7 linked regions of the Homo sapiens genome follow. The protein of the gene in region 1 purifies or fractionates together with the protein of each later gene. This does not show direct contact. Each region holds a gene or a part of one and is shown on either strand. Other genes may lie near its edges.

Evidence for each region.
Region 2: the proteins of NRSN1 (region 1) and TPST2 purify together in Homo sapiens (affinity purification with mass spectrometry; one large-scale study listed by BioGRID and IntAct). This does not show direct contact.
Region 3: the proteins of NRSN1 (region 1) and HSPB8 purify together in Homo sapiens (affinity purification with mass spectrometry; one large-scale study listed by BioGRID and IntAct). This does not show direct contact.
Region 4: the proteins of NRSN1 (region 1) and PKP1 purify together in Homo sapiens (affinity purification with mass spectrometry; one large-scale study listed by BioGRID and IntAct). This does not show direct contact.
Region 5: the proteins of NRSN1 (region 1) and PAQR3 purify together in Homo sapiens (affinity purification with mass spectrometry; one large-scale study listed by BioGRID and IntAct). This does not show direct contact.
Region 6: the proteins of NRSN1 (region 1) and ERI3 purify together in Homo sapiens (affinity purification with mass spectrometry; one large-scale study listed by BioGRID and IntAct). This does not show direct contact.
Region 7: the proteins of NRSN1 (region 1) and NRP2 purify together in Homo sapiens (affinity purification with mass spectrometry; one large-scale study listed by BioGRID and IntAct). This does not show direct contact.

What each region holds. Positions count from the first base shown.
Region 1 is NC_000006.12:24,142,459-24,145,865, reverse strand, and holds part of NRSN1 (neurensin-1), read right to left. Parts: intron 319-3,407; coding exon 1-318. UniProt on the Homo sapiens protein: May play an important role in neural organelle transport, and in transduction of nerve signals or in nerve growth. May play a role in neurite extension. May play a role in memory consolidation.
Region 2 is NC_000022.11:26,530,533-26,535,031, forward strand, and holds part of TPST2 (protein-tyrosine sulfotransferase 2), read right to left. Parts: intron 2,214-4,499; coding exon 2,163-2,213; intron 1-2,162. UniProt on the Homo sapiens protein: Catalyzes the O-sulfation of tyrosine residues within acidic motifs of polypeptides, using 3'-phosphoadenylyl sulfate (PAPS) as cosubstrate.
Region 3 is NC_000012.12:119,185,066-119,189,564, forward strand, and holds part of HSPB8 (heat shock protein beta-8), read left to right. Parts: intron 1-1,959; coding exon 1,960-2,023; intron 2,024-4,499. UniProt on the Homo sapiens protein: Involved in the chaperone-assisted selective autophagy (CASA), a crucial process for protein quality control, particularly in mechanical strained cells and tissues such as muscle. Displays temperature-dependent chaperone activity.
Region 4 is NC_000001.11:201,313,831-201,318,329, forward strand, and holds part of PKP1 (plakophilin-1), read left to right. Parts: intron 1-2,722; coding exon 2,723-2,867; intron 2,868-3,741; coding exon 3,742-3,949; intron 3,950-4,499. UniProt on the Homo sapiens protein: A component of desmosome cell-cell junctions which are required for positive regulation of cellular adhesion.
Region 5 is NC_000004.12:78,918,492-78,922,990, forward strand, and holds part of PAQR3 (progestin and adipoQ receptor family member 3), read right to left. Parts: intron 4,493-4,499; exon of another isoform or gene 4,338-4,492; intron 4,004-4,337; exon of another isoform or gene 3,650-4,003; intron 2,191-3,649; coding exon 2,048-2,190; 3' UTR 1-2,047. UniProt on the Homo sapiens protein: Golgi-scaffold protein which modulates its interactors acitivies by anchoring them to the Golgi apparatus. Functions as a spatial regulator of RAF1 kinase by sequestrating it to the Golgi apparatus.
Region 6 is NC_000001.11:44,341,338-44,345,836, forward strand, and holds part of ERI3 (ERI1 exoribonuclease 3), read right to left. Parts: intron 1-4,499.
Region 7 is NC_000002.12:205,684,980-205,689,478, forward strand, and holds part of NRP2 (neuropilin-2 isoform 2 precursor), read left to right. Parts: intron 1-4,499.

The sequences.
Region 1 (3,407 bases):
TGTAACCGGCTGGGTGTGGGCTTTGATGTCTGCGATTCGTTCTTTAAACTTCTGCTGGAGGAATTTTTCTTCTTTGGAGTAGCTCTTTACAAACACCGACATCAGCAGGCACCCTGCCATGGACGTGCCTCCAATGCAGAAGAGAACAGCTCCTGCCAGCTTGTACATGTCCAGAGCACTGTTAAACTGGACAGCATGTGTGTCGACCACCACAAAATCGGCTTCGCCAAATGCTTCGATTTTGGGGGGCACAAGAAAGCCCACTGCCAGAACAGTCAATCCGAGGATCACAAAAACTGTACCTGAGATGAGTCCAACCTACAGGTAGATAATGACAGAAGCAAGATAGAGTGAGGAAGGTGCTTCGGCTCGCCCCTGAGCCCTCAAGGGCAGCACTTGTCTTGTTTCTTGAGAGAAATGAATATTCCCAGTTACCCCAAATTTGCAGGAAACACTTACTTAATTTTCTGTTGAAAAAGGTGAAAGATGATCTTTCTAATTTTAATGCCAACCAAAAACTCCAGCACTCAGCCTTGAGATATATGTATATATCATATATATATATTATATATCTAAAGATATACATATATTGTATATCTAAAGATATATATATAATCTTTATATTATCTAAAGATATATATAATCTTTATATTATCTAAAGATATATTATATATAGCTAAAGATCTATATAATATATATGTCCAAAGATATATATATTATATATTATATGTCTAAAGATATGTATATTATATATATATCTAAAGATATATATAAAATATATAATATATATTATATACCTAAAGATATATATTATATATAATATATATCATATATCTAAAAGTAGATATGTAATATGTAAATATATATATAAATATCTTTTTTTTTTAAATTTGTACAATGCTTTGCAGTTGACAAAACCTTCTTTTGCTTACATTGTCTCATTTGGTCTTGAGGAAAAGAAGAGTAGCCCTGATATCCAGGAGCTGGCCTTACTCTGTCCCCTAGGCCTCGACATTGTTAGAAGCTGGCTAGGAGCTCACAGCAAGGCCATGCTGTTCTGCCAGGCACCATCTCACAGAACATTAACACATGCTCATTCTGTGACCATGATGAAGTGAGACAAAACAGTAGCCCTTCATAACTTTGTCTAAGCACAGACAAAAACAAGGTCCTTGTAAAAACCACAAAATACGACATGACCCCCGCTCCTGGCTAATATGAATGACACCTACTTCTTTCTCATGATGGCTTTAGTCTCACTCTAGTCTGTCCTCTCTATACATAAGATATATTAAGATATCCAATCATAGAATTGTCCCTAACAATCCAGAGTGAACTCTTGCTTCATTAGACCCTCCCCAAAATCACCCAACCAGAGCCCACATCCTATAATATTATACATCCTTTTCACACTCTCATATTGCAATGCCCCACAGTCCCCTATGGTGACATTCTTTCTTACTGTAATGAGTAATACATCCAACTTGTTCAACATATAGGTGTGTTCCTGGTGGTTTTGGCTGGAGGACATGGACAGTCTTTGTAACTACTCACCTCTTTTCAAAGTAAGCAGAGAAGGAACCTTAATGGCCAGTTAAGGTAAAGAAATGTAGCGTCAGAGAGGGTAAGTCATGGACCAAAGATGGACAGCTAGCAAGCTGCAGAGGCAGGGTTAGAACCCACAGAGCTGATCCCCAGGCCAGTGTTCTTTCTCCTCTCACATGTAGCTATTTGGGGTATACTTGTGCAGGTGCTAGGAAGTGTTCAGAATAGCAGATGGAGGTTAAACTGCATTAGCTCAAGTTCTAATGAAATGTAACATACTAAAGATGGAAATGATGTACCATTTGGTGGTCAATGCCCATAGGTTTGAAATAAATGGACGCATGCTTCGATTCTACCACCACCACCTAGCACTTGAATCATAGAAGGAAAGTTACTTAAAAGCTCTTGTCATTAATTTCCCCATCTATAAAATGACAAATGCTCATAATACCTACCTCATAGAGGACTTGTGAGGACTAAATGAGACTATCCATAAAAGCACTTAGCCTTGTATCTGGCAAAGTTATACATTGTATCTGGCAAAATTATAAATTGTAATAAGTAGCTATTCTTCTTATTTGGAAAGACACCCCTTGAAAAATTGTTATGCTACATTGGTAACAGTATTACGATTGCTCAGCACTTGGAATAAGGAATAGCTAACACCATTACTTTTTAAAGTAATTTTTCCTTTCCTTCTGTTCTTAATTGCTTTTAGTTAGAATAACAAGGTTAGGAAAATAACCAGATACATAACATAAATTAATCTTTAATATTTAAATTTTTGAGATAATATACTAATAAAGGAGGCTTGGCTAATAGAAGGAAAACGTATCCACAAATCTATCACCCTAGCAAAAATGGGAAAAGTATAACTGGTATTATTGAACATCTATTATGACCTGCACTAATGCTAGATGTGTTTTTTGTTTAATCTTCACAAGCATCTTATGAGAAGTAGGTATTTTTATTCCAATTTCACCTATAAGAAACTGAGGATTATAAGGTTAAAGAAGCATACTTTAGCCGGGCATGGTGGCTCATGCCTGTAATCTTAGCACTTTGGGAGGCCAAGGTGGGTGGATCATCTGAGGTCAGGAGTTTGAGACTGAGAGGTGAAGCCGGCTGGGCTTCTGGGTCGGGTGGGGACTTGGAGAACTTTTCTGTCTAGCTAAAGGATTGTAAACACACCAATCAGTGCTCTGTGTCTAGCTAAAGGTTTGTAAACTCACCAATCAGCACTCTGTGGCTAGCTAAAGGTTTGTAAACTCACCAATCAGCACTCTGTAAAAAACACACCAATCAGCGCTCTGTGTCTAGCTAAGGGTTTGTAAATGCACCAATCCACACTCTGTAAAAATGGACCAATCAGCATTCTGTAAAATGGACCAATCAGCAGGATGTGGGCGGGGCCAAATAAGGATATAAAAGCTGGCCACCCGCGCCAGTAGCCGCAACCTGCTCTGGTCTCTTTCCACCCTGTGGAAGCTTTGTTCTTTCGCTCTTCACAGTATATTTTGCTGCTGCTGACTCTGGGTCCGCACTACCTTTATGAGTTGTAACACTCACTGCCAGGGTCTGCGGCCTCATTCTTGAAGTCAGAGAGACCAGAAATCCACCGGGAGGAACCACTTCTGGACACAAGACAAGCCTGACCAACATGGTCAAACCCCATCTCTACTAAAAATACAAAATTAGCCAGGCATGGTGGGGCATGCCAGTAATCCCAGCTACTTGGGAGTCTGAGGCAGGAGAATCACTTGAACCTGGGTGGGTGGAGGTTGCAGTGAGCCGAGATCACATTGTTGTACTCCAGCCTGGGCAACAAGAGTGAGACTCTGTCTCGGGAAAAAAAGAGAGAG
Region 2 (4,499 bases), on another chromosome or scaffold:
AAAAATGGAATCATGCTTGAACCCGGGAGGTGGAGGTTGCAGTGGGCTGAGATGGCGCCACTGCACTCCAGCCTGGGTGACACAGTGAAACCCCATCTCAAAAAAAAAAAGGAATCAGCAGGAGCAGGTGGAAGGGTTCAGATCTTTTGAAGACTCTTGAACAACAAGGCTAAAAGTGTTTTACAAAAGGGTTGGGGTCAGGAGCAGTGGCTCACGCCTGTAATCCCAGCATTTTGGGAGGCCGAGGTGGGTGGATCACTTGAGGTCAGGAGTTCGAGACCAGCCTGGCCAACATGGCGAAACCCCTTTCTACTAAAAATACAAAAATTAGCCAGGCGTGGTGGCCGGTGCCTGTAATCCCAGCTACTTGAGAGGCTGAGGCAGGAGAATTGCTTGAACCTGGGAGGCAGAAGCCGCAGTGAGCCGAGATCACCGCATTGCACTCCAGCCTGGGCAACAAGAGGAAAACTCCATCTCAAAAACAAAAACAAAAACAAAAACAAAAGGGTTGGGCCAGTTTATACTTCCTGCCGTGTATGACATATGCAAGATGTCTAGCTGACCTGGGACTGGTTTTTGTTGCTTTTAGGAACAAAATATGAAGGAATGGCATACCCCCACGCTCAGGAGGGCTGCCCTGCAGATAAGTTTTGTCAAGCCTCTATTTCCAACCCTCATCTCCCTACTGTCCTCCACTGTGCACATAATGTCATTCTGGATGTTGTAAAAACTGGAAATGGTCTTGAAGAAGCTGTTTAGTAAATGGTAGCACATGCATTCCACAGAACACTACGTAGCCATCCAAAATGGTGCCGGTGAAACTCAAAAGATAGGAAAATATTAAGAAAGCAAAACAAGGCAGTTTGAACATGAAAATTGCAATGAACATTCCTGTAAATCACATTGGGGTAGAAACAAAGAAAAATATAATTGCAACGAATGCAAAAGTGCATACGCACTCCAGAGGTTTCGGCCACACTCCCCACTTTCAGGCGTTTACAGTTCCCTCTGCCGGGAAGCCTTTTCTATCCAGATCTTTGTGTGGCAGACCTAGTTTTAATCCTTCAGATATTGGCTTATGGGTGCTTTCCAATATCAGTGACCAATTCTCTGATTATCTGGATACCAACTGGGTGTTCAACAATTCAGTTCAGTTCTGACACCAGCTCCCAGACTTACTTAGCATCAGCTGCCACAGATTAAGGGCCCAGTTCCACGACTGCCCCACTTTAGATGCCAGCTGCAATGGGGTGCGCAGGCTATCCACACTTCTTCCCAGCCAACTTCAAATCTGGAGGTTCCCACAACCCCCACTCTGGTTTGATAATTCACTAGAACAGCTCACAAGACACTAGGGAAAACACTTTACTAACTGCTACCTGTTTATTATAAATAATACAACTCAAGCTTGGACAACATGCCAAAACCCTGTCTCTACAAAAAACACAAAAATTAGCCGGGCATGATGGTGTGTGTCTGTAGTCTCAGCTTCTTGAGGGGCTGAGGTGAGAGGATTGCTTGAGCCCAGGAGATTGAGGCTGCAGTGAGCCATGATCACACCACTGCACTCCAGTCTCAACAAGAAAGAAAGCCCAAGAAAAAGTCCCCACGAAGTCCCTCCAACTGCATTCAAGCCGGAAGACGAAGTGAGAGGCTGCTTCCTGGCAGAAGGGCCACTGAGATGTGGCCCCAGCTGGATCAGTGCTTAGAGACCCTCTGGTCCAGCACGCATCCCCACAGCCCTTTATTTTTTATTTTTATTTTTTGAGATGGAGTCTCGCTCTGTCGCTCGGGCTACAGTGCAACGGCGTGATCTCAGCTCACTGCGACCTCTGCCTCCCAGGGTCAAGCGATTCTCCTGCCTCAGCCTCCCAAGTAGCTGGGATTACAGGTGTGTGCCACTACGCCCGGATAATTTTTGTATTTTTAGTAGAGACGGGGTTTCACCGTTTTGGTCAGGCTGGTCTTGAACTCCTGACCTCGTGATCTGCCTGCCTTGGCCTCCCAAAGTGCTGGGATTACAGGCAGCCAGCTCACATCCCCCTTTTTATAATGGGAAAACCATCAACCAGAGTGGAGAAGTGACACATCTAAGGGCATACAGCCAGATGGTGGTATAGCTGAGAAAGACAGAATTCGGAATTCCCCTTGGGGTTTCTAACCTGAAAATATCCTTTCAGATTGGCTGGTGTTTTATAGTCCCCTTTCAAGACCTAAGGAAGAGAAAAAGAAATATCACTATTATGAAAATGGCCAAAAAATAAAATTTAGTCATTCCCAACACATCCAGTCATCCACCCATCCACCTCGCCACCCACCCATCCCTCCATCCAACAAACATTGCTTAAGCTCCTCTTCTTCTAGGCATTATTCTAAGCATTGTGTCTGGTTGACATGATGTTAACCAGATAATGGAAATTCCTGTTCCCCTGGAGCTACCATTCTAGAGGGGGCACCAGATAACATACAAGAAAAATAAACACAGATAAACAAGGACATAGCAAACCATGGGAACTGTTGTGAAAAAAGTACAGTAAAGAGGTGGGATTAGGAGTAACCAGGGGGCTTCTTTTGAGTGGGTGGTCAAGAGGGGACTCTTGGGCCAGGCGCAGTGACTCATGCCTGTAATCTCAGCACTTCTGGAGGCCAAGGCAGGAGGATCACTTGAGTCCAGCAGTTTGAGATCAGCCTGGGAAACACACTGAAACCCCATTTCTAAAAAATTAAAAATTAGCTGGGCATGGTGGCATGCACTTATCGTCCCAGCTGCTCTGGAGCTACTCCAGCCTCAGCTGGAGGATTGGTTGAGCCCGGGAGGTTGAGGCTGCAGTGAAGTATGATCACATCACTCCACTCTAGCCTGAGTGACAGAGCGAGACCCTGTCTCTAAGAAAGTGAATAAATAAAAATAAAAAGGGCCTCTTGAAATAGATAACCTTTGAGCTGAGACCCAAACGACAAGGAAAAATAGGTAGGCTAAGCTCAGAAGAAAAAGCACTCCAGGCAGAGGCAACAGAGCAAAGGCCCTGAAGTTAGAACCACAACATTTCAGGCCTTTCCGCTAGTAGTCACATTTTAAAATAAAATGAAACAAGGGAGATTAATTCTAACAATATCTTTTATTTAACCTGATATAGCTAATTTTTTTTTTTTTCTATTGAGACATGGTCTCACTCCCATAGCCCAAGCTGGAGTGCAGTGGTGCGATCACGGCTCACTGCAGCCTCCACTTCCCAGCCTCAGGTGATTCTCCCACCTCAGCCTTCTGAGTAGCTGGGACTATAGGCACGTGCCACCATGCCTGGCTAATATTCAATATTTTTAGTAGAGATGAGGTTTCACCATGTTACCCAGGCTGGTCTCAAACTCCTAGGCTAAGCAGTCTGCCTGCCTTGGCCTCCAAAAGTGCTAGGATTATAGACATGAGCCATCATGTCCAGCCTATGTAAAATATTAACATTTCAATATGTAATTTATATAAAAGTGACTAATAAGAAACGTTACATACTTTTTTGTCCTAAGCCTTCAAAATCTAGTGTGTATTTTACACCTAACAGGACCTCTCACTTTGGACTAGCCTCCTGTTACAGAATCAGGGGCCACACATGGCTAGTGGCTACCGTATGGGACACTGCAGGCAGAGACGATTTCATCAGCATAGATGTCCTTTTAGCCACTGTGTTTACTGAGCCCCAGGATCCATTATTGGAACACACAGGGTCCACAGCACTCACAGAAGCACACAGGCATGCATGCAAACTCACAGGGCTTAGTGAGAGGACTTTTCTTTGCAGTAACAGCCAAGCTATGGCAAAAACTAAACCAGGGATCTAGCACTTGCCAAGACTTGTTGACCGCCCCAGGGAAGAAATCTCTTTGGATGAAAATGAGAGACAGCTTCCATTTTAAATAAACAAACACAAAAAGCTCCAAAGAGTTGATGTTAACCACCAGTGCTCATGAAAATTATTTGTGTTTTATAAAATACATAAAGTCAGGCTTTACTCCAGGAACGTCCGACCCATAGCCTGGGGCAAGCCAGGGGCAGCGAGCCACCTTTTAAGGAGACCCCAGAGGAGCCACTGCTGGGCCCTTGGCTGAGAACAGTGAAGTAAGCAACATCCAGCCCACTACTGCAGTGTCCCCAGCCGGCCCTCGCCTCTGCTTCTGAGAAGCACCTGGGGCTGGATTGTGAGATCACTACCATCTTTTTAATCCAGTTAATTAATTTTTTATTTTGATAATACATGTACAACCCACAGGCAGATAAAAGTATGTAAAACACATAAGTAGGGTTTAAAGATTACTATTATTAAAGAATAATAAAATAAAAATTAATAATATTTATAATAAAAATAACAAACCACATCTGGGTTGCAGCCATTCACCTGTCAATGTCGGCTGGTATGTACGTTGAATCTCTGAGTATTTCCATAAATAGATGTCTGCAAAATCAACTAATGTCAAGAGGAAGAGGAACTCACGAGACCCACAGACAA
Region 3 (4,499 bases), on another chromosome or scaffold:
TATAAAAGATATTATTAATAGCTTCCGTGGGGTGACAGGATTATAAGTAGTTTTGATGGCTTTTTTTTTTAATTTTTTCTTTTGTTATTGTTGTTTTTTTTAAATTTAGAGACCAGATCTCACTCTGTTGCCCAGGCTGGAGTGCAGTGGTGCATTATAGCTTACTGTAACCTCAAACTCCTGGGCTCAAGCAATCTTCCCACCTCAGCCTCCCAAATAGCTAGGACTACAGGCACACACCATCACACCTGGATAATAATAATAATAGTAATTATTATTATTATTTTGAGACAGAGTCTCACCCTTTTGCTGGGCTGGAGCGCAGTGGCGCGATCTCGCCTCACTGCAACCTCTGCCTCCCGGGTTCAAGCAATTCTCCTGCCTCAGCCTCCCAAGTAGCTGGGACTATAGGCACGTGCCACCATGTCCAGCTAATTTTTGTATTTTTAGTAGAGACGGAGTTTCACCGTGTTGGCCAGGAAGGTCTCGATCTCTTGACCTCGTGATCCACCTGCCTCGGCCTCCCAAAGTGCTGGGATTACAGGCATAAGTCACCACGCCCTGCCTATTATTATTATTATTATTATTTTTAGAAACAGTGCCTCTCTATGTTGTCCAGGCTGGTCTCAAACTCCTGGCCTCGAGTCATCCTCCTGTCTCAGTCTCCCAAAGTGCAGACATTATAAGAGTGAGCCACTATGCCCGGCCTATTTTCTGCATTTTCTAACATACACATGCACTATCTTAAAGCACAAAAAAAGCTATTAACAAAGAAATAATTAAAAGTAATTAGCTATAAGTTGTCAGTTTAAAAAAATCTGGACTGCTATATTCAACAAAGTTGTTTACATTCTAGATTTCAAGGCCCCTCAGAAGCACCTCCCTGTGTAAATGAGGGTTCTTGCCTCCAGAAGGTGGCCCCACAAATGAGGAGTGAAAAGTAACAGCCGAATGGCCCCACTGTTGTACTAATCTTGTTTGTTTAAAGAGAAACTACAGACACTCTCTCTATTAAAGAAAAAAAGAATGAGGAGAGACCGAGAGAATTAGAATGTGCTATATACATTACAAGATCAAAACCAGTTTAGGCCCAAGTCTTCTTGTAATTTCATCTTTTTCCTCCCTGAGGGGGTTGGGAAGCCCTCTCTTACCACAGGTTAAGAGGCGAGAGGTCTGGTGGAATTTCACATCCACAGTGCCCTTAGGAAAAGCTGGGTGTTTTTGGCAGATTGAAGCATTCTTTTTCCAGGCTGTGCTTTCACTACTGGGTACAGATAATGTGGCTTAAAGAGCTAATCGGGAGCTGGAACAGACAGAAATTCAAGAGCAGAGAGGCATCAGGACCTAGAACTTGGCCTAGACTCAGAGAGAGCTGATTCAAAGCTCAGAGCCACCAGGGACCTGCTGGGCGACCCTGGATCCATCACCAAGCCTCAGTTTCCATGTTGGAAACAAAGGGAGAACGACGTCTGGGCTCAGAGTTAGGAAAGCACTCTGTTAGCTATAAAGCAAGCTACATGGCAGAGTCGCCCTCAGCATGTGACCCCGCTTCAAGCCTGCCATCCAGTCTGGGATGTCAGACCCAGGGTTCTACTGGCAGGTTAGAGAAGAGGAGTCAGGTGGGAGACTTGGAAGATTTGGTACAACACATGGAAGATTTGGTACAACACAGAAGTTTCTGCGATTTCCTCAGACTAACCCTTAATTAACTACAAACCACGGTCTACGCCTCCTTTCCATCAATTATCTTATTTCACCTTCATAGCCAGCCTTGGAAGTGGACTTAGGTGGGTCTGTATGGCAGACAAGGTCCTTGAGGCTTAGATAACTAGAGTCTCTAGGGTAGGCCTAAGTCACACAGCAAGGCAGGTCCAGGGCCAGGATTTGAACCCAAGCCTCAGTCCTGAAGGATGCCCAAGGAACATAGATGCTGACACGCCACACTTTTCTTCCTTCCAGGCAAACATGAAGAGAAACAGCAAGAAGGTGGCATTGTTTCTAAGAACTTCACAAAGAAAATCCAGTAAGTAACCTGGAGTCATGGAGCTCAGGGTGGGAGTGGAGGAGGGGGCACACCTGGGACCCATGATCTGGGGTCTCTCCCTCTTGGGCATCTCTCTTTTAAGACACCTCCTTGGGGCAGGGAATTGAACCCTCACACCTAACGAGGAGAAAATATCCCAGCAGACCTGTAATAGGGTCCCAGAAGGGGGAGCACATAGATTGCATCATCTCATCTGCTCGGTGCCCTGTGAGGTGGGTATTAAAAACCCCATTTTATTTATTTATTATTTATTTATTTATCTTGAGACCGAGTCTCACTCTGTCACCCAGTCTGGAGTGCAGCGGTGTGATCCCAGCTCACTGCAACCTCCACCTCCTGGGTTCAAGCGGTCCGTGTGCCTCAGCCTCCTGAGTAGTTGGGATTACAGGCATGTGCCACCATGTCCGGCTAATTTTTTGTATTTGTTTAGTAGAGATGGGGTTTCGCCATGTTGCCCACACTGGTCTTGAACTCCTGGGCTCAAGCGATCCACCCACCTCAGCCTCTCAAAGTGCTGGGATTAGAGGCTTGAGCCACTGCACCCGGGGAACAACTCCCTTTTATAGACTAAGCATCTGAGGGTAAGCAAGACAATGACTTGTCCACAATCACACAGCCCCTACCCATGGGGCATAGCTGAGGGAGGACCCCTGTCACCATCCAGAAAGACCATCCCCTGATTCCCCAAATGCCCCAGCAGAATATCTTCCAGGCTGCTTGCTCAGCCTCTGCCCTGCCAGGAAAATGAGCACCTTCTCTAGGGCATCCACAAAAATGAAGTTGGAAAGTGTCCTGAGAACACTGCATACTACCCAGAGAGGTTTGGAGGCTGAGACACTGGGACACAGGAAGAGCTATTTTGCTGAGGGGAGTAGAAGGGATTCATGTTTAACAGGGAAAGGGAGCCTGGGGGAACCGTGAGAGCAGCCAAGGACAATCAGGCTGAGGCCATGAACCAAAGCCACCACGAGCCCCTAGCTGGCAGTACCTATAGGGAGCAGAGTTGCACAGTGTGGTCACGATGGCTGCACTTAAACAACTGCCAGGTGCTTCATACATACCTTCTCCCTAATCAGCAATCAGCGTCACTCCACTATGTGCGTTTCTGGCCCCTAAACTCTCTCTCTCTCTCTCTCTCTTTTTTTTTTTTTTTTTGAGATGGAGTCTCACTCTGTTGCCCAGGCTGGAGTGCAGTGGCACGATGTCAGCTCACTGCAACCTCTGCCTCCTGGGTTCAAGCAATTCTCCGGCCTCAATCTCCCAAGTAGCTGGGATTACAGGTGCATGCCACCATGCCTGGCTAATTTTTGTATTTTTAGTAGAGACGGGGTTTCACCATGTTTGGCCAGCCTGGTCTTGATCTCCTGACTTCAAGTGATCTGCCCGCCTCTGCCTCCCAAAGTGCTGGGATTACAGGTGTGAGCCACTGCGCCTGGCCCCTAAACTCTTTTCCAAGCCATCGTTGCATTTAGCCTTTGCAGCAAAAGTGTGCATCGGAGAGGAGACATGACCCTCCTTGCAATACAGGGAAACTAAGTCTCCCACAGGTGAAAGGACATACCCAAGGTCTTTACAGCTAGAATTTAGAAGGGCCCAGAATAGATCCCTGACCTCTGAGTTCCATGCTCAGTCCTTGGGCAAGGAATGCTGTTTCCTCATCTGTGAAAGGGATGCTGATTCCAGCCTTGCAGAGTTCCTGGCTGAAAGTGACATAAGGTCATGGCCCAGCGTAGGTCCTCATAAGTGGGAGTTCATTATTACTATTGTTATTGTTGACTCTTAACTTTTCCATCAGCCTTTGCAAAGAAATTCTGTGTGTGGAGAGATCACACTAGCTGAATTCTGAGGCTTCTTCCAGCTTGGGATTCTACATTCCTGTCTCTTCCCCCACATGTCCGTCCCTGGCCCTCCCACAGCCTCTGCAGTTCTTGGAAGCCTGTGGACACTTCCTGATAAGGCAAACGCCAAACCATTTGTTCTTCGTGTTTGCTGGCTTGCCTGGCATCTCCGTGCCCCACACCTCTCCCTGGTTTAGCAAGCAGATTAAACATTGCTGAGGGAGAGGAAGGAAGGCAGGGGGTGGGGGGAAGCTGATGTCAAGGCTCAAATGAGGTCTCAGGGTGGAGTCACAAGCAGGGCATAGCTGTAAAAGGGACTGTGTAAGAAAGAAGTGAATTAATCATCTTAAAAGGGGTGTGTGTGTGTGTGTGTGTGTGTGTGTGTGTGTGTGTGTATTTCACATGCTCCAAGGCCTTAGGGGAGATAGCTTGCTGGAAGTAACCTGATGAGAAATGCCTGAAATTGCTCCAGGCTGGTGCTCAGCTGCTGAGCTGGGCTAGTTGTTAAAATATTCAGTGGTCCCCAACCTTTTTGGCACCAGGGACCAGTTTCGTAGAAGGCAATTTTTCCATGGACTGGGGAATGAAACTGTTCCACCTCAGATCATCGGGCATTA
Region 4 (4,499 bases), on another chromosome or scaffold:
AATAGTTCTCAAAGTGTGTTCCTCCAACCAGCAACATCAGCATCACCCAGGAATTTGTTAGAAATGCTCATTTGGGGACCCACCCAGACCTATTGTCTCAGAAACACTGGGAGAGGGGCCCAGCAATGCATATATTAACAAGCCCTTCAGTGATTCTGATTTACACTAGAGTTTGAGAACCTCTGATCTTAGGCATGTAAATCTCTATCCATGTTCTGAAAGAGCAAAGGAATATGCCCCGGTATGGACGACGGGAATAGAATGGGTTTCAGGTTACGTTATAAGACAGGTAAATCCAAAGGACAAATAGGACAAATAGACATAAAAACTGAGGGACATGGCCTGGGTGTGGTGGCTCACGCCTGTAATCCCAGCACTTTGGGAGGCCGAGGCAGGAGCGGGTAGAGGGTGCTTGAGCTCAGGAGTTTGAGACCAGCCTGAACAACATGATGAAACCTTGTCTCTACAGAAAAATACAAAAATTAGCCAAGCATGGTGGCGGGTGCCTGTAGTCCCAGCTACTCAGAAGGCTGAGGCAAGAGAATCACTTAAGCCCGGGAGGGGGAGGTTGCAGTGAGCTGAGATAGTGTCACTGCACTCCAGCCTGGGCAACAGAGTGAGACCCTGTCTCAAACAAACAAACAAACAACAACAACAACAACAAAAACCCTGAGGGACTTCATGGGGCTTCATGATCTACTGCTACAGAACAGAGCACAACTCCTGTGCATACATGTGGAAGGCCATCACCCAGAGGAAACAAAGGAGACCAAATGGGGTGCCCCGTTAGGAGCCATAGACGCAGAGGTGTCGTGAGTGACACTGAGCCTGCCCTTCAGGGCTGGGGGCTCCCTGAACCTTTGAACTGTCCTTCATCACCACCTACTGCTCTTGTTATTTATTTATTTGGCAAATGTTTGCCGACCATCTACTACATGCCAGGCTCTTTGACAAGTGCGGGAGACACAGCCATGATAGGGACAACCCAGAGCTGTTCTGGAGCTACACAATTAACTCCTTTTCTGAGAGCCTCAGGAGCTTTGCATTCTTCATCTTTAATCCTCACACCCGCCACCAGGCAGGCATGAGTATTCCTGAGGAGAAAACAAGGCACAGAGATGTTAAGTAGTTTGTCCAAGGCCACACAGCTGGCTCTCCATCCTGTGCTCTTCCCTACTGGTACCACACTGTTCTGAAAATAAGCAGAACCCCGTTATAGAGCTAGACGTTTCCGAACTACCTGATGGCCGTAAGGCGTATTTAGGATGATCTGGAGAAGAACTAAGAAACCTCTCTGTCTTGGAGGCTGATCAGGGCAGCCTCTGGCTTCAGCTCATTGTCCCAACCAGAGGCCCTGAGTGGAGGTTCTAGGTGAGATATGGAAGGGATGAGTGTCAAGCCATTTTGGGGTGACATTTTACTGATGAATGCAGGGTGACATTCTCTCAATGCAGGCAGCAGTACTACTTACCCAGTGCCAGAGAACTCTGCACCTCGGGTGGTTTTCCTAGAAATGAAGTTGGGCTGCTATAGCTAAAACCATGGGTATTTATTGACCACCAAGTATGTCAAAGCATAAGGATAGGGCTCCCTCTTTGAATGCTGGACACAGCCAGTCACCACCCTGTGACTCTACACCAGGGGAGCTGGAGAGGTTCTTAGAAGAGAGGTTTCCCTTCCCTAGGAAGGCTTCACAGATGTGGGGCATCAGCAGGGCCAGTGGTGTGCCTTGAGGCATGCCTGAGACCTGGCCAGGGTACAGTGAAGGGGACAGTCTTGCTGGAGCAGACCCTGGATAGGGGCTGGGGAATGTTCATAGTGGAGCCGGGTTATTAGGTTAAAACATATGAAATTTCTGGTTTTATGGCTGAAAAAAGGTTGACTACAGACATTTCCTATGATTCAACCTAATACCTGCCCTTGGACATCAGGCTAAGCTGTTTAAACTTGAACCTGAAGTATGGAGAAGCCGCTGATGGTTTCTGAGCTAGAGAACAACACAGTGAACTGGGTTTTAGAACCACTTATCTAGTAAAAAGGGTATGAAATTTTAGATGGGGGAACTTGAGGAAGAAAGCCAAATATGGAAGTCCCTTGCTGCCTTTAAAGTGATCAAGATCAGGAAATTGGTGGCTATAAGAATGGGAAGAAAGGCTAGATGTGAACATTTTTGTGTAAGAGCCAGCTGGACTTGGGGATGGATAGATGGATGGATAAATGGATGGATGGATGCATGGATGGACAGATGGACGGACAGACGGACGGATGGATGGACAGATGGATGGACGGATGGACGGACGGACGGACGGATGGACGGACGGATGGATGGATGGATGGATGGATAGGATCATGGCCATTGTCTTCCATTTTCCTAATACCAGACACAAACAAGAGAGATGGCAAGGTAGGTGGGAAGCTTCCCCTCAGGGAATAGGGAGGAGTTTTTCCTCAGTGGAGAGATAACATACCTGCTAGGACATTAACTGTGACCAGGGGCTCACTATTCTCACATGGGGCAAATCCAGTGGGTGTAGCCTTCCCTCCTCTGGAGGAGAGGAGCTGTTCCCAGGGGTATTCTCCAAGTGGGCCTGGGCTGCCTTGTTCTGGCTCTCCAGAGGGCAGATGAGGCTGTGGCAGCTTAGTGTGCTGGGAGGAATTCTGAGCCCCCTCAGCAGGGCTCCCAGCCCACCCCGTAACCACCCCCACTGCCTATTCTTCACAGGATCTGCAGTGAGGACATCGAGTGCAGTGGGCTGACCATCCCCAAGGCTGTGCAGTACCTGAGCTCCCAGGATGAGAAGTACCAGGCCATTGGGGCCTATTACATCCAGCATACCTGCTTCCAGGATGAATCTGCCAAGCAACAGGTAGCTGGTTGCATACCTTCCTCCTTGGTGGGCCTGCGGAGGGCCTGGGTGTGTCAGCCTGACTCCGCTTTTAGAGATGGGTGAGGGCATCTGCAGTTGGCTTCTCTTGCCTTGCCCAGCTGCCAGGAGCCTTCGCATTGCCCAAGGTTAGAGCTGGGCATCTTAACTTTCTGCAGAGCAAAGCCCTCTGTTTAAGTGGACATTAGGCAGGTACAATTCCTCCATTGGTCATGGAAGAGACTTCAATGCCAGCCACGGGTTCAACAGAAACCCCTTTTCTCAAATCCCACTAAAGAACATGACTGCTCCTCACCTCTCAACTCCTGCCCTCCTACCTGCTTCCTCTCTCCCACTCCCCTTCTCTCTCCAGGCATCTTACGGTAGAAAACAGGCCTGTTGATGCCTCCAAAGCTTTGCTGGCAGGAAGGACACTACAGGGTTCTTCAGTTCAGCCCAAGGATGTAGTGTCAAAAATGAGTTTCCCAGAGTCCCGGATAAGTTTGTATGCATTTCTATGTCTGTGTTCTGCTTTAGGGTTTTGAAATGTATTTACATCCACTCTCTTATCAGGTCCTCACCATCATTCTCCAGAGGAAGAAAGCAGGACTCAGGAAAGAGGAGGGACCCTAGCTGAGGTTCTCCCAGCTAGGATATGGGAGCTAGGATATGGGAGCTAGGATCTGAATCCAGGTCTTTTGCCTCCGGGTCTGGGTCAGTTATCATGACCTCACACTGCTTATTTATTTTGGTTGACTTGAATATTTCTGAACTGATAGATTTTTTGGTCTGAAAAAAAAAATCACCTTTGAGTAGAGAATAACTAGATCAGCCTCATCTCCCTTGACCAGGCAGCGTGGCAACTCTTTCCTGGCAGGTCTATCAGCTGGGAGGCATCTGCAAGCTGGTGGACCTCCTCCGCAGCCCCAACCAGAACGTCCAGCAGGCCGCGGCAGGGGCCCTGCGCAACCTGGTGTTCAGGAGCACCACCAACAAGCTGGAGACCCGGAGGCAGAATGGGATCCGCGAGGCAGTCAGCCTCCTGAGGAGAACCGGGAACGCCGAGATCCAGAAGCAGCTGACTGGTAGGACAACACGGCCACCGAGAGCCAGCCTGAGGGCTGTGCAAGGCCACTGGCTATGGCCCCAGGCTGGGGTGCAAGCCTGTCTCTCCAGGCTGGGCCAAGACACAGCTGTGCAGATTTGGCCCAGGGCTAATATCCTGAGAGTTTAGTGACACTGGCCTTGGCCCAATTAGGGGTGTCCAGAGGGTGACCTTGGGTGGTGTGCACACACAAGGGGTCACCATCTTTTTGAGGTTAAAGAGCAAAAGGAGGAAGGCTGATGTCCAGGCAAGATCCATATTCCACAAGCCCTGGGATTCCCAGGTGATGGAAAGAGAGTAAGACTGAGGGGAGAAGGGGTTAACAGGCCTTAAGCACCTACCCTGTGTTCAAGAAATATGGTAGGCACTCAAGGTGGGGGGCACAAGAGGAAGAGGTCACCGTGAAGACCTAGAATTGGGCTGGGAAGATCAGACCATGTACAGAGTAATGACTGATAAGTATTTCTGGCATAACTTTCAGATGGAAAAGAGACAGCGTTAGAAGACTCCAAGTGCTAAAATTTATACTA
Region 5 (4,499 bases), on another chromosome or scaffold:
ATAACTTTCTTACAATATTTAACATTTTCATACAGAGTTGAAATGTTTACATGGAATAATTTTCCCTACAGAAAGACCTGTACACCCTTTAAATTCAAAGAAACACGGATTTAAAAACACAGTATACTCTTTTCATGTTATTAATTCAAATGGCAAGTATGTATTCATATACTAATACAGGGACTGCAAAAATTGAAATGATTCAATGTTTTTTTATTTTGAGAAAGTTTTATAATAAAAATGGCTCCACACCTAAAATAATGATTTTCCCCTCATTTTTAACTTAAGTGTAACTACTCAGTGTCTTTTGTTTGGCCAAAATGACAAAATATCTATTAAAAGGCAATAAAATCATGTAAGCCAATAAGGGATGTTCTAGGAGAAATATATCCTACTACTGTTGCACCAAAATCTTCTATCACTTAACATATGGATCAAAATTTTAACCTTATAAGGTAAAACAGCCATTTTCAAAGCAGCCTTCCATCATAACGATGGGTAAGACACGGTATTCCTTTACTGAGCCTCCTGGGGGGAAATTCTCTTTGCTGAGATACTATACTAGCATGGGGAATTTATATTCCAAAAACACTACACTGGAAAAGAAACACAACATTTTACTGATGTATTAACTGAGGCACATTAGTGACTTTCCAAGTATCATATGCACAAAAGGCATTTTGGGAATAAGCTTCATCATCAATTAACATTTTTTCTGATATTCAGTAATTTTACTGTTCTGAAAATACACCAGTATTTAAAACAGCTCATGTCAACTCATGAAGAAACTTGGGTAATATTTTATACTCCAATAAACAATGTAAGTTTTTATGAATGTCTACTTTAAGGGATTTAACTAATGCATATGAAAGACCAAAGAATAAGAGGGCTACAATGTATGATAGGGCAGTGAGTTCTATTTTTTAAGTATATACAATAAAAAGAAAGTTTAATGCTTCAGGCCCAAATATTAAGTGTTTATCAAGATTCTGAGTTATCAATGCAATGCTAACACATGCAGAAACCGAGGACCAGAGCACAGGTGAATAAGATTATTATCAAATGGGGCATCTGCATGACTTTGTTCTAAGGCTTAAGGTTCATTTCAGGGTCAAGACAGGGCCATCTAGATTCTATGGCCTTGCAAGTAGCACCCACAATGCTGGGAACCCCCACCACTGGGATATTCAGGACTACAAATTCAGAGAGTTGAAAGCTCTGGAATTTTGGGATCAAAAACCTGTAATCCACTCACAAGAATTCAGTTATTATATGGAATTAAATAATATCTGGAATTAAAATGTTTAGGTGGCTAATGACTATATTATTTGACCACATAATTTGTTGTCTAATCTTGTACTTAGTTTCTAATGTGATTCTTATCTGATAGAAAATGAGAAGTTCTTTTCCTCTTCTCAACCCTTCTCTCAACTTACTGCAGAAGTTTAAAGCTTTTGTTCTGGAAAACTAAAATATCTAATGTTCTTAGGGAGAGAAGAACCTATAGCTAAAGGATATAATATCTGAAGTGCCAGTTTCTCACAAATCATTTTAGTGATTATTTAAATCTAGTGATTTTAGTGATTATTTAAAATCACTATCCTAGCTTGCATTAAGCATAGGCTGAAACAACACTTGCCTTGATTAGGCACTTAAACTTGACAATTAACTGAAAATAATTAAGCACATAAGATGACTCCATTTTCTAATGGACATGAGCCCTTCCTAAGGAAATTAAGCTGGTGCTAAGTAAAATGAATCCTATTTCAACACTAGTTTCCCATTCATCGTTGTTATTCAGATGTTTCTTATGATTGCCAACTAATTTTCACTTTCTGTACAAGCAGCAAATTAGTAGTTTTAAGGATTTTGTAAAGCAGTTATTACTACAGATCCTTAAGTATACTTTTTTTCCCATTTTTATAAAGCATTACTCATATTAAAAAGGAAAAAGGGAAAACTAATGGGAATCTTAGAAATAGTGGGGTATACAATTCCCCATTATATATTGCTTAACAACTGAATTCACCAGGTGGCCATACCTAATTCACAAATGTGAAACATAGTCAGGACAAGGCTTGCTATGTCTGTACTGCATGACATACACTGTTGACTGATGCCACCAATATAACATCACTACTGCAAGGATATGCCATATTTGGTGGCTTGATCCGAGGTAGTTTAGTTGTCCTGGAAAGAAGGTAGAAAGAAAATGATAATGATTTCAATATGTTGACATTAAAGGAAAAATATATTTCTTGGAAGTATAGCTTAGCAGAAAAATTTTCATAGTCTCAGAGTGCCTAGAGACTAACTGGAAGCTCCAAACGTTTTTAGAAATGGATCAATTCATATTTGGGTCTAATTTTAAGGTTTTATTTATTAAGTACACAGGTAAACTTTAGAAATGCTATTCCAAGTGTGTTTTCAAAATCTAACTTAATTTCAGGAATTTGACCTTATGCCTCCCACATCTCAACTCACATTTGATGGAATGAACAACAACAAAAAATTATTGAGAGAGGCAAAAGAAACCAGATGTTAAAAATCATGGTGTGATTTAGGTATAAATCCGCGAGAAGGAGATATACTGCTGGGTTTAGATATAAACCTATTAGAAGCACTTTTTATTTCAAGCAGGTGTGCAAAGAAAAAGTGCTGACCTGAATTCTGTGCTCTCTAACTAATGGAATAATCTGCAGGATGTAATTAGTAATGGATTAATTAACTAAGGTTGTTTAGTTCATATACAACTTAAGAGAACAATTTAATCTCTTTGTGGTCAAATGTTAAATTCTGAGAAGATTAAACAATTAACATACGGAAAACTTCTTGATCTCTCTCAGTAAATAAAATACAGAGCTATAATAATTTCAATGTAAATAACATACTCATGGTGCTTCTATGGTCATATAATGTAAATATTCTCTAACCTCTCTTTTTTCTTACCAATCAGTACAGTACATAGATTTTAAAGTGTATATCAATAAGATTCTTAGCCTTTTTTGTACCATGGACGCCTCTGGCAGTCTAGTGAAGCCTACAGACCCATTTTTTTAAAAAACAAAACACAGAGGATTACAACAAATATTGATTATCTAATACAACTATCAGAGATCCACTCAATTCTATCCATGGACACCTTGGGGACCCTTGGACCCATCAAATGCCACTGTGTTGTGTATACATTTTTAAACATTCAACCTGAGCTGAATGAAAGCTTTTAGTTTAAAATTTATTTTATTTCCCAGTGGCCAGGTCATACATGAGGACTTGCCAGAGATAGTTTCTAAGGCATTTATATATGAACATTTGAGACTATCACTTTTCACTGGAAAGACTTAATTTTTTAGTTTCCATATCTCCACTGCTCTCATGTACCCAAACTCAATATGCTCTGCTACATAGGGCACATTTTATGTCAAGTGTGTCTTGGGGAAGGTTAAGTTACAATAAGTTTGATTGTTTATATATGTCCTATATTAAACAATTGGTAACTCCTGATCTGAATATTTTAAGGCCTAAAACCCACTATGGTCATAATCACATAGAGAATTTTCATGGTTTAGTGTTCTACTTGTCTTGCTATAAAGAAAATACAGAATTTTAAAAAGAATTATTAATAAAGTGATACAAAAATATATTTTACCAGAATTGTTTTCTGTAATTCTGGCCCTGCCTGGAAGATGGGTGGTCTTCAATTCAGTGGCATGTCCTAGATCTGTTCCCAAATCCTCATGTTTACAACGCAGGTTTTCCCTTGTATTTCCATTCTTATTTAAAGCTCAGTGGTGAAAAACCAAGTACACAAAGGAATGCCTGAGGATCTGTGGGATGGATTGTTTAGGCCAGGGTTTCTCACCCTTTCTTCTTTCCCAACACACGTGACGAGTGGTACAATCCCTTCTCTGATTCACCGTGGAAGTGATTCTTAACCCAGGAAGAAGAGGGGATAAATTTGCAGTTTAGATTTAAACTGCTCCCTGACTCATAGCTCTCCAAACTGAAAAAAAACATCAGTTTTATGTACTCTAAATGTTATTTCTGACCCATGCCAAAACTTACCTGGATTTGCATCACTTTGTCTCTTACTAAACCACATATTTCACTTATAAGACCAGGGCTGGGGGACATAGTAATAATTGCTGTCATTTATTCAGTCCCTACTAATTGCTAGAAACTTGGTTACATGATATGTGCATTTTCTCATCTAACCCTCATTAAACTGTGTTACATGCATTTTCTCATCTAATCCTTACCCTAACCCTGGGGGGAAAAAAAAGTATTTCCATGTTTTAGATAGGAAAACTGGAGCTGAGAGCACTTAAGTAACTTACTTAGCCCACGTAACTAGAAAGTGGTTGATGTGGGTCTTGAACCCAAGCAGTCTGACTCCAGAGCTAAAGTTCTCAAACAAGCAAATACAGGTTTTGGAGACTGTTGTTCACTCCACCCAGTGTCCTCTTAGTTATTTTCCATCTGAAAATATTTTCTTTGGA
Region 6 (4,499 bases), on another chromosome or scaffold:
CCTAATATATATTATCCTAATGTTATTACTACTATCCTATTGGGCTATGCCCACCTGGCCAAGCCTGGATCCCCAGATTCTGGGCCTACAAATCCAATTAATTCATAAGGCAGCCTCAGAGAGTAATATCGATGTCTTCTGCAACCCTAAAATGCTCCAGACCTCTGACAGAGCATACTATATATACCCTATTCTGATGGCCAGTGGTCCTCTTGCCTGCAGGCCTTGCTTTCTCACCTGATTTCATCTACATCAAAAAGCTTCTTTTGGCCAAGCACAGTGACTGCACCTGTAATCCCAGCACTGTGGGAGGCTGAGGCAGAAGTATTGCTTGAGCCCAGGAGTTCGAAACCAGCCTGGGAAACATAGTGAGACCCAATCTCTACAAAAAATAAATTAAAAATTAGCCAGGCGGGGTGCTGCATGCCTGTAGTCCCAGCTACTTGGTAGGCTGAAGTAGGAAGATCACTTGAGCCCAGGAGGTTGAGGCTACAGTGAGCTGTGATGGAGCCACTGCACTCCAGTCTGGGTGACAGAGCAAGACCATAATTCAAAAACAAAACAAAACAAAACAAAACAAAAAAACTTCTCTCGTAGGAAGTCTTGAGAGTAGACATTAGGAGGTCAGGCCTCCACATATCAGCAGTTACTGGATTCCACACTTCCCTTACTTCTAACAACCAAGCTCAGTTCAAGTCAAGAAACAGAGGGTAGCTCTTCCTCTTCCCTTCCTGAAAAACTCAATCCTAAAGCCATTAGGTGCAGCAGAAGAGGGCAGATATCTACAACGGGTGGAGTAGGGTGAGCCAGAGAGGTCTGGGGGACACTGTCAGAGCCCAGGCAGGGTGAGGAAGACATCCTTGCAGAAGTGGGAAGGTGTGGTGCAGCATGTCAGAGCCGAGGGGGATGTGGAGAGCATCCATGTCGGCTGGCAGTCTGATGTGGGGTGACACACGCAGGGTAAAAGAGGCACTCATGAAGGGTAAAGGGCAGTGGCAGTAATGAGGATTAGCTACCTACAGAGGAACTGATCAAAGAAGTGCATATATTAAGCATAATGGGACCCAGGTTTCTCACTGTTAAGAGAAAGGAGTTAAAATATGGAAAGGGAGAAAATCTGTGGTGTTGGATTGGAATTGGCAGGAAGAATGTGAACTCATGGTTTCTGATTAGATGTGTATCAGATAGATAGATGGATACACACACACACACAAATATACACACATATGCATATATATTTTCTAGCTCTATTTAAGGAAGAGCCAGGGAGCAGTAACAATGGCAATGAGCACACCTAGCACTCCATTGCCTTCTTGTTTTTTTTTTGAAGACAGGGTCTTGCTCTGTTGCCCAGGCTGCAGTGCAGCGGCACAATCATAGCTCACTGCAGCCTCGAACTCCCACGCTCAAGCAATCTTCCCACTTCAGCCTCCCAAGTAGCTTGGACCACAGGCATGTGCCACCACATCCAGCTAATATATATATATATATATATATATATATATATATATATATATATATTTTTTTTTTTTTTTTTTTTTTTTTTTTTTTGTAGAGATAAGAGTCTCACTACGTTGCCCAGGCTGGTCTTAAATTCCTAGGCTCAAATGTTCTTCCCACCTTGGCATCCCAAAGTGCTGGGATTACAGGCATGGGCCACAGCACCCAGCCCCAGTTGCCTTCTAAATACCATTCCCCACTAAAAGAAACAGAGGTCCTTAGAGAAATGGCTGATTCCAGGGATGCAGCAAGAGAAATACAAGATGAGCGCATAACATCTTGTATCAGAAAGCAAGGAAACACCCAAATAATGATGGGAACATACCAAAAGGATACAGAAGCCACCCACTGGCCAAGAAACAATGATAGTAATGGATTATAATGCACTGAATAGAAAACCATGAGTCCATAAAGATATAAATCAATAAAATTAAACTTTGATGTGAGATATTTACATAGTTTCAAAGTATCACCCCACAAAATACTTATTAATTACAACTAGTAGTAATTTTATGATGGAGAAGCCTGGCAGACATCACCTTAATCAAGTGATCAAAGTGAACATTATCAATAATGGGATAAATCAAAATCACACGACGAGAAGAACAAAGCATCATTTCTGTTATATTCCTGAAGCTACACAACCTAAATCTAATCATGAGAAAATGTCACACAAACCCTAATTGAGAGACAATCTAAACAATAACCAGCCTGTAATCTTCAAAAGTATCAAGGTCATGAATGCCAAGGAACGTTTACTGAGGAAAGTCTAAAGGAGACTAGAGACTTGATAACCAAATGCAACCCACGATTCTGAACTGGATCACTTTGCTGCAAAGAACATTCCTAGGACAACTGGCAAAACTTTAATGGGGTCCAAGGTTTATATAGAGGTTTTATATCAATGTTAATTTCCTGATTTTGATGGTTGTATTTTGACTAGGTAGGAAAATGTCCTTGTTTATAGGAAATGCACACCAAGCATTCAGGGTGATGGGGCATTAGGTCGGCAACTTAACCCTCAAATGGTTCAGGGAAAAAATTCTTTCTACTGTACTTACAACTTTTATGTAAATTTGGGCTGTTTCAAACGTTTTTTTAAAATTGTTTTTTAAAATCAGCTGGGTGGGGTGGCTCACATCTGTAATCCCAGCACTCTGGGAGGCCAAGGCAGGCAGATCGCTTGAGGTCAGGAGTTCAAGACCAGCCTGGGCAACATGGCAAAACCCCATCTCTACTAAAAATACAAAAATTAGCCAGGCATGGTAGCACACCCCTGTAATCCAGTGACTCAGGGGGCTGAGGCAGGAGAATCGCTTGAACCTAGGAGGCAGGGTTTGCAGTGAACTGAGATCACATCACTACACTCCAGCCTGGGTGACAGAGACTCCATCTCAATAAATAAATAAATAAATAAATAAATAAATAAATAAATAAATAAAATTGTTTTTTAAAATCCATGTGCAATGTGGTTACAATTTTAAAATTAAAAATATCACACAGACAGTATTTGAAGAGACAGATCTCCCTGTAATGCCCACAGAAGGTAGGCTGCATGTTCTCTCTGGTAGAGAGGCTCAAAGCATCTCTCAGCCCAAACAGTATCTCTATCCAGCCGAGTTTCCATCAGAAGAGCCCCTACTCAATGCCCACTTCACTGGCACTCCTGCTACCATACAGCCTTCTCAGGAAACACACCTGCTCCCTGCAGCAGCATCCCACTTGCCCTTGCACCCTCCGGTGTCTTAGGGATTTCTCTTTTCTATTGATGTCTTTATGTTTTAGTCACAAATTTGCAGGCTATAAGTCTATAGCTTATAATATCAACTGGGACTTTGAGTATCTAAATGAGGGCCAGAACTCAAAAGAAAGTTTATGATTCTGCCTATTTCTGCAAACTATCTTTCATCAGAGACTAAGATTTATACACATTTATTCTCAGACATCCTTTTCCGTCTCCTAGCAAATTAAAGGTATTAAGTAGCCCATGGCAAGGAGGAAAATGAATGATTCTCTCCTCAATATGAAGGGCCCAGGTCCCCAGTGGGGACAGGGGAGGGGTAAATGGGACTGCCACGGGGCCAGCCCGATTTGGAGAAGCAGGCCTGCGCCAGAGCCCCTGGAGGATGGTCTCTGTGCAGAGTATTTACACAACAGACACCAATGGCTCCTCTGCAGCCATTACTGTCTATCAGGTAAATAACACATGTGCCAAAACACACATTTAATGAGGGAAATAATATGCCTTTATAAAAAGACTCAATCTGTATTTACCTGAGAGACCAAAGAAGCACCAAATCACCAGATTAGAGGAACCACAGAGGAGTCGTTCTGGTGTCTTGGGTAAATAGACATTTTATAGCCTCCATTACTGGAGGGGTGAGCAGAGGGGGTCAACCTTTAACATCCACACACACAGGCCAAGGGAGTCCTCAGGATGGGAAAACAAGAGGAGGCCACTGTGAAACAGGTGGTCTACTCCCACTTCCACCTCCCCAGCCACATGTACTTGGGATCTCTGGGATGGTGTATGTTTATACCACCCCTGGATTCAATTCATTCCATTAAAAGCCAGACTAGGAGGCAGGGATACATCCAAGTAACTCCAAGTTACCTGCAACAGGTTCTGAGTCCAGCTGACTGAAAGCACCTAGGAATACAACAATCATAGCTTCCTCAGTTCTCAGTCCTGGTGTAAGTCCCCAACCCAATCTGACCTGCAGTATCACAAGTGCTCAGGCACCTGAGTCACAGAAACAACAACAAAAAACACAGTAATACCTGTCTGGAACTCAGTCACTGGCTTTGTCTCAAGCAGCTAAAAATAGCCTGGGAAAAAATACAAATAAACTGCATCCCTTCAAAAGTCATAATCTTCAATCTAATGAATATATCCTTACTGCCAGAGCACTCTCTGTGTGAAAAACAAACTGTCAAAGGTGAAAGAAAACCTAAGAGGCAACACAGTCCAACCAGCCAGGGAAAATGAGATTAGAAAG
Region 7 (4,499 bases), on another chromosome or scaffold:
GCACACACATGCAACTTCAGGTTCCGTGTGCTGTGCGGAGCGGGAGGGGTCGTGAAGACTCAGGGGCCATCTCCTACCCCAGATGTTCGCACATCTGTCCCCGAGCGCTGCTTGGAGTGTGTGTACGTGTGTGCGCGACACCCGCTTGGACCCACTCCCGCTCTGCCACCTGCCTGCCGCGCTCTCTGCAGAACCCCCTCCCATCCCAATCCCCAGCAGTGCTGCGTCACTTCCAGAGAAGCCCAGAGGCGCGGAGTTCGGGGCAACCTCGGACCCGGGGTGGGATCTCAGGGTGGGATTCGAAGCTGGGACCTGCCAGGGACCTCCAGCTCCCCAAAATGCGATCTCAAGCCGTGAGCTGCTCAGGCTTTCAGGCGGAGCAAAGCACTGGCACCCTGGGAGCCGGCAGCGGGTGGCCAGGGCGAGGCCAAGCCACATACCTCTGACTCACCCGGTGTGCGCCGGCCGGGAAGGGGGCCTGGTTCAGCCGCCGCCGCCGGCGACGAGAACCAATTCTGGGAAGGAGCAAGATGGGGCAGAAGGTGCGCGCGGGGGAGCAACTGAGCAAATAACACGGCGGTCGCGGCGCGCGGCACCTTGGGCTGGCGCGTGGCTGGGAGGCCGCATGGGCGACGCGCACCAGGCTGCCCCTCTCCTCACTGCGCCGCCTCGCCAGACCGCAGTGCAGCCGCTAGCCTGCCTCCCTCCCTGCCCCGGGCGCCCCCGCCAGTCCCCTGCGCTCCGCTCTGCGCGGCAGGCTCGCCGCGACCCCTAGAGAGACGGCTTTGAGTGGCGGGAGGCCGAGGCCGGCTGGCTTGGGAATCCAAGCGCTGGCCCAACTAGGTGAGAGGAAACTGGGGTGGGATTTCGGAGAGGAGGGCGGAGAGAGGCGGGAAGGAACCAGCTTGAGCCCCAGGAATGCGCGCAACTTGCACAGCCTCTAGAAGCGCCGCGCGCCCAGCGCCCGCCGGTGCGCAGGAACAGGTGAAGAGCACGCGGCGTGCGGCCATCCACGTGGTGGGGACGTGATAGCCCCTCAGCTCTCCTCCTAGCCCTCCCTCCCCTTCCCCGCCCCCCAGCGCCTTCTCTAACGCCGCATCGATTTGTTTGGGCTACGCAGCAGAAACAGAGCCCAGCGATCCATAAACATTCTATTAAGCAAAAATATTCCCAGCGAAAGCAAAACCGAGGCTGAAGCCTCCGCGAAGTTGGCCGCCTCCAACTACTCCATGCTTGTGCCCTCCTCCTCCTCCTCCTCCTAAGGACACCCCCAGGGAAAAGCCTGCGGCATTTCTTCAACGCTGCCCTATGCCGGAAAGTTAGGTCTCGGCTGCAGCGCTGGTCTCTGGAGAAGCCTCTGCCTGCAGCCGCCGGCGAGTTCCCGCCTCCCCTCCCCAGCCGCCTCGCTCTTTGCTTTTCCACGTGAGAAAAAGAAATGTTCACGGCCGATGCTTCATTTTCACTGATTGATTTCTTTTTAATATCAACACAAGTTAATGGAGGCAAGGCGCGCTCTGATTGAAGGGCTGCCCCCGCCCTTCGACTCGGGCTGGCTGTGCCGGGGGTCTTTCCCACCGGGTCGCAGGCGTCCAGCGGCTGGGTGGCGGGCGCCGGTAGCCCTAGTGTTTGGAGGTGGGGGAGGGATTTGGAATAGACTTGTCGCCCCTCTGGGAATCATCTGGGTTGGGGAACCTTCGGGAATCAGCTTTCCAGACCAAGTTTTAGGGGATCTTGCCCATATGCGTTGCGGCTTCTGCGGCTCCGGCTGAATTTCTTCTAAAAGATAGGAGATCCACGCTCAGGTTTATTGGCGTGTGCTCCCTGCTCGGCTCCCCTCCCTCCACTTCCTGTTCTTTCGGTTTCAGACAGAGAGGAGAGCCCCCTGGCGCTAGCCATTCCCGATCAGCGCCCACTACGAACGTCCCCTTTGCTAGAGTTAATCATGATCTGCGGGGGGACTGGGTTTTGCTCAGAAAATCATTCAAGTCCTGACAATGGGTTTCTTCAAATGGTGGCAACTCCCAGGCCTAATGTCCCCACCTCCGGGACACATCGCTTGGGGCCAAAAGAACCCAGACCCCATAACCATCTACCCCTCCCCTCCTCGTCTGGAGAGCTTTGATCTATGCTTGGGTTTTAACGCCATTGCCATGGACACGCGCAGATTCTCGGTCAATTCACCCTTCCGTCTGGACTGGATGATCAGATAAGAGGTGTAAATTGGCTGTGGGAGACAGGTCTGGGTTCAGACAAATCCTGAAAGAGAAGCAATGACGGTCTAGGCGCCGGATAAGGGTTTGAAGTGTTTCTTTTAGCCTGTCTCCCCAAAATGTGAGATGGCCATTGGCGAGCATAATAATTTGCAAGTAAACTGTAAACTCCTAGATTTTACGCAGACGGCCTGCTCTGGGCTCTAGGGATTGGTCTCATGCCCACATTAAATGGGTACCCAGTAAACATTTTTCCCCCGTGATCAGCTCCTGGAGGTAGGGAAGCTGTGGCCAGTTGCCAGCAGAGCACACAGTGCAAGACAGTGGCAAGAGGAGCACTCCCCAAAGGGCCCCGGGCAGGCCCCTACTCGTCCAAGCGGTGCCTGGTGGAATTGTGAATGCGCCAGTGCACATCAGGTTTGGAGTTTTATGTCATCCCATAGAGCCCTCAGACATTAAGCTACGGAGCACTCAACTGGCAAAATGAAAGATTGGAAGGCTGCAGTGACTGGAACCCAGGCTACCCAGACAGGACTCCTGCTGTCTACCAAATGGCTCTGATCCCCTGCTGTTGAATGTATCAAGTCCACGTTCTGCAGCAGAAAGGCCAGTTCCTATCTTCCAGGCATAGAAAAAGCTAGGAATCCAAATGCCAATTCATATGCAGTGAGGCACGAATACAAATGACAGTGAGGGAGGGGTCTGGGGTCAGTGAGGAGAGACACCAGGGACCAGATGATTCTGGGGACCCTGGTGTTTTTCATTTCACTCAAGTCTTCCCTAAAGCAATCAGGAAAATGAACTGACTCAGGATGACCTGAGTGTAAGACAATTCTGAGTTGACAGAATTCAAGAGCCAGGTAAAGAGGTTTCCAAATATATTCTCCAAAGGTCCAGTTTGGAAAGACTTTAGGAACTTGAGCTGAGATCTTCCTTTCTTAAAAGATAGAGCAAAAGAAGAATATCTTTTTAATTTCTTGAACTGACAAGAAAGGACTTGAAAAGTGTCATCTGGGCAATGGCTTGTAGTGTTATTAACATATTTGAGGTATTTTATTATCTGACCATCACTTGCAACTGGATAATCTTTGAGATACCTTCCTTGAGTGGCAGATAAGTATATTGATCACCAGAAGTTAGTCTTTGTACTGTTCCTTCCAGGTAAGGACTTGGCTGTTTGCTGATTTTTGTTTTTTAATTAACCCATTTCTGGAAGATGCTGCAGAAGTTTGTCCTGGAGAGCTACAGTATTTTTCAAAGCTTTATCTGCCTTGATGAGAAATGGTCAGAGGCTTAATGGTTTCATTGCCTAACAGGATTCAGTGGAGTAGGATTCCAGGACACAGTGGCCTTGTATCATGGCTGGCCCTCCAGGAGAAAGCATCTTCTAAAGGTTTAGGAAGCTGTCAAGTTTAGATAAGGCTGAGCTCCGATCCTCTGGGACCTTGGTTGTATTAATAAGGAGAAATTAATTTTTAACCACTGGGAACATTGCCAAATTATGTGACCTTTGGCAGACCAGCTGTGCTATAAAAATAAATCCCCCATTTCTGAAAATGCTACTCCTATCCAGTAGAACAATAACAATGTGGCATTTAGGATAGAGAAGAGTAGGATTGAGAAGAAAGGAGAGAAATAGGAGTTGGCAAAAAACAAAAAAACAAAACAAAACAAAAAAAACAAAAAAACCCTTCGATGTTGTGATACATGGTTTCAGACCTGAACTTCCTATCCATCACCCGCCCTCCCCGGCCCCATGCCTAGGGTTTCCAGAACACAGGAAAGAGGGCCAGGATGACAAGGAGCTGAGTGCCTGTGTGTACAGGGAGTGGAGAAGGTGTTAAGTGCTTCCAGCCCACTCACACCCCAGCCTCAAACACATCTCTCATTGTTCACACAGACAGAGTACTGGCACAGGCAGAGAAAAGGGGGTTTTCAAACAGGCAAAATATTTGTCTTTCCCTAAATGCTACCAAGTAGGTTTGCCACTGAGAAGTTTTGTGGGGATCATCCCTGGCCTTCCCAGCTTCTGAAACATGGGAACTAGACTGCCTGGGTTTAGAATCTAGCTCAGCCACTTGCTGGCTCTGTGATCCCAGTATCCTGTGTGATCAGATACTTAGTCTATGTGCCTCGGTTTCCTTGTCTGTAAATGTGTTTGGTAACAATACCTACTTCATAGGGTTGTTGGGCTATGTCAGATTATGTAGAATACTGTTTGGCACATATGAAGCCCATTCTGAAGTCACTGAATCTTTAAAACTGTTTCAGTGGGGTTAGTGGAATCTC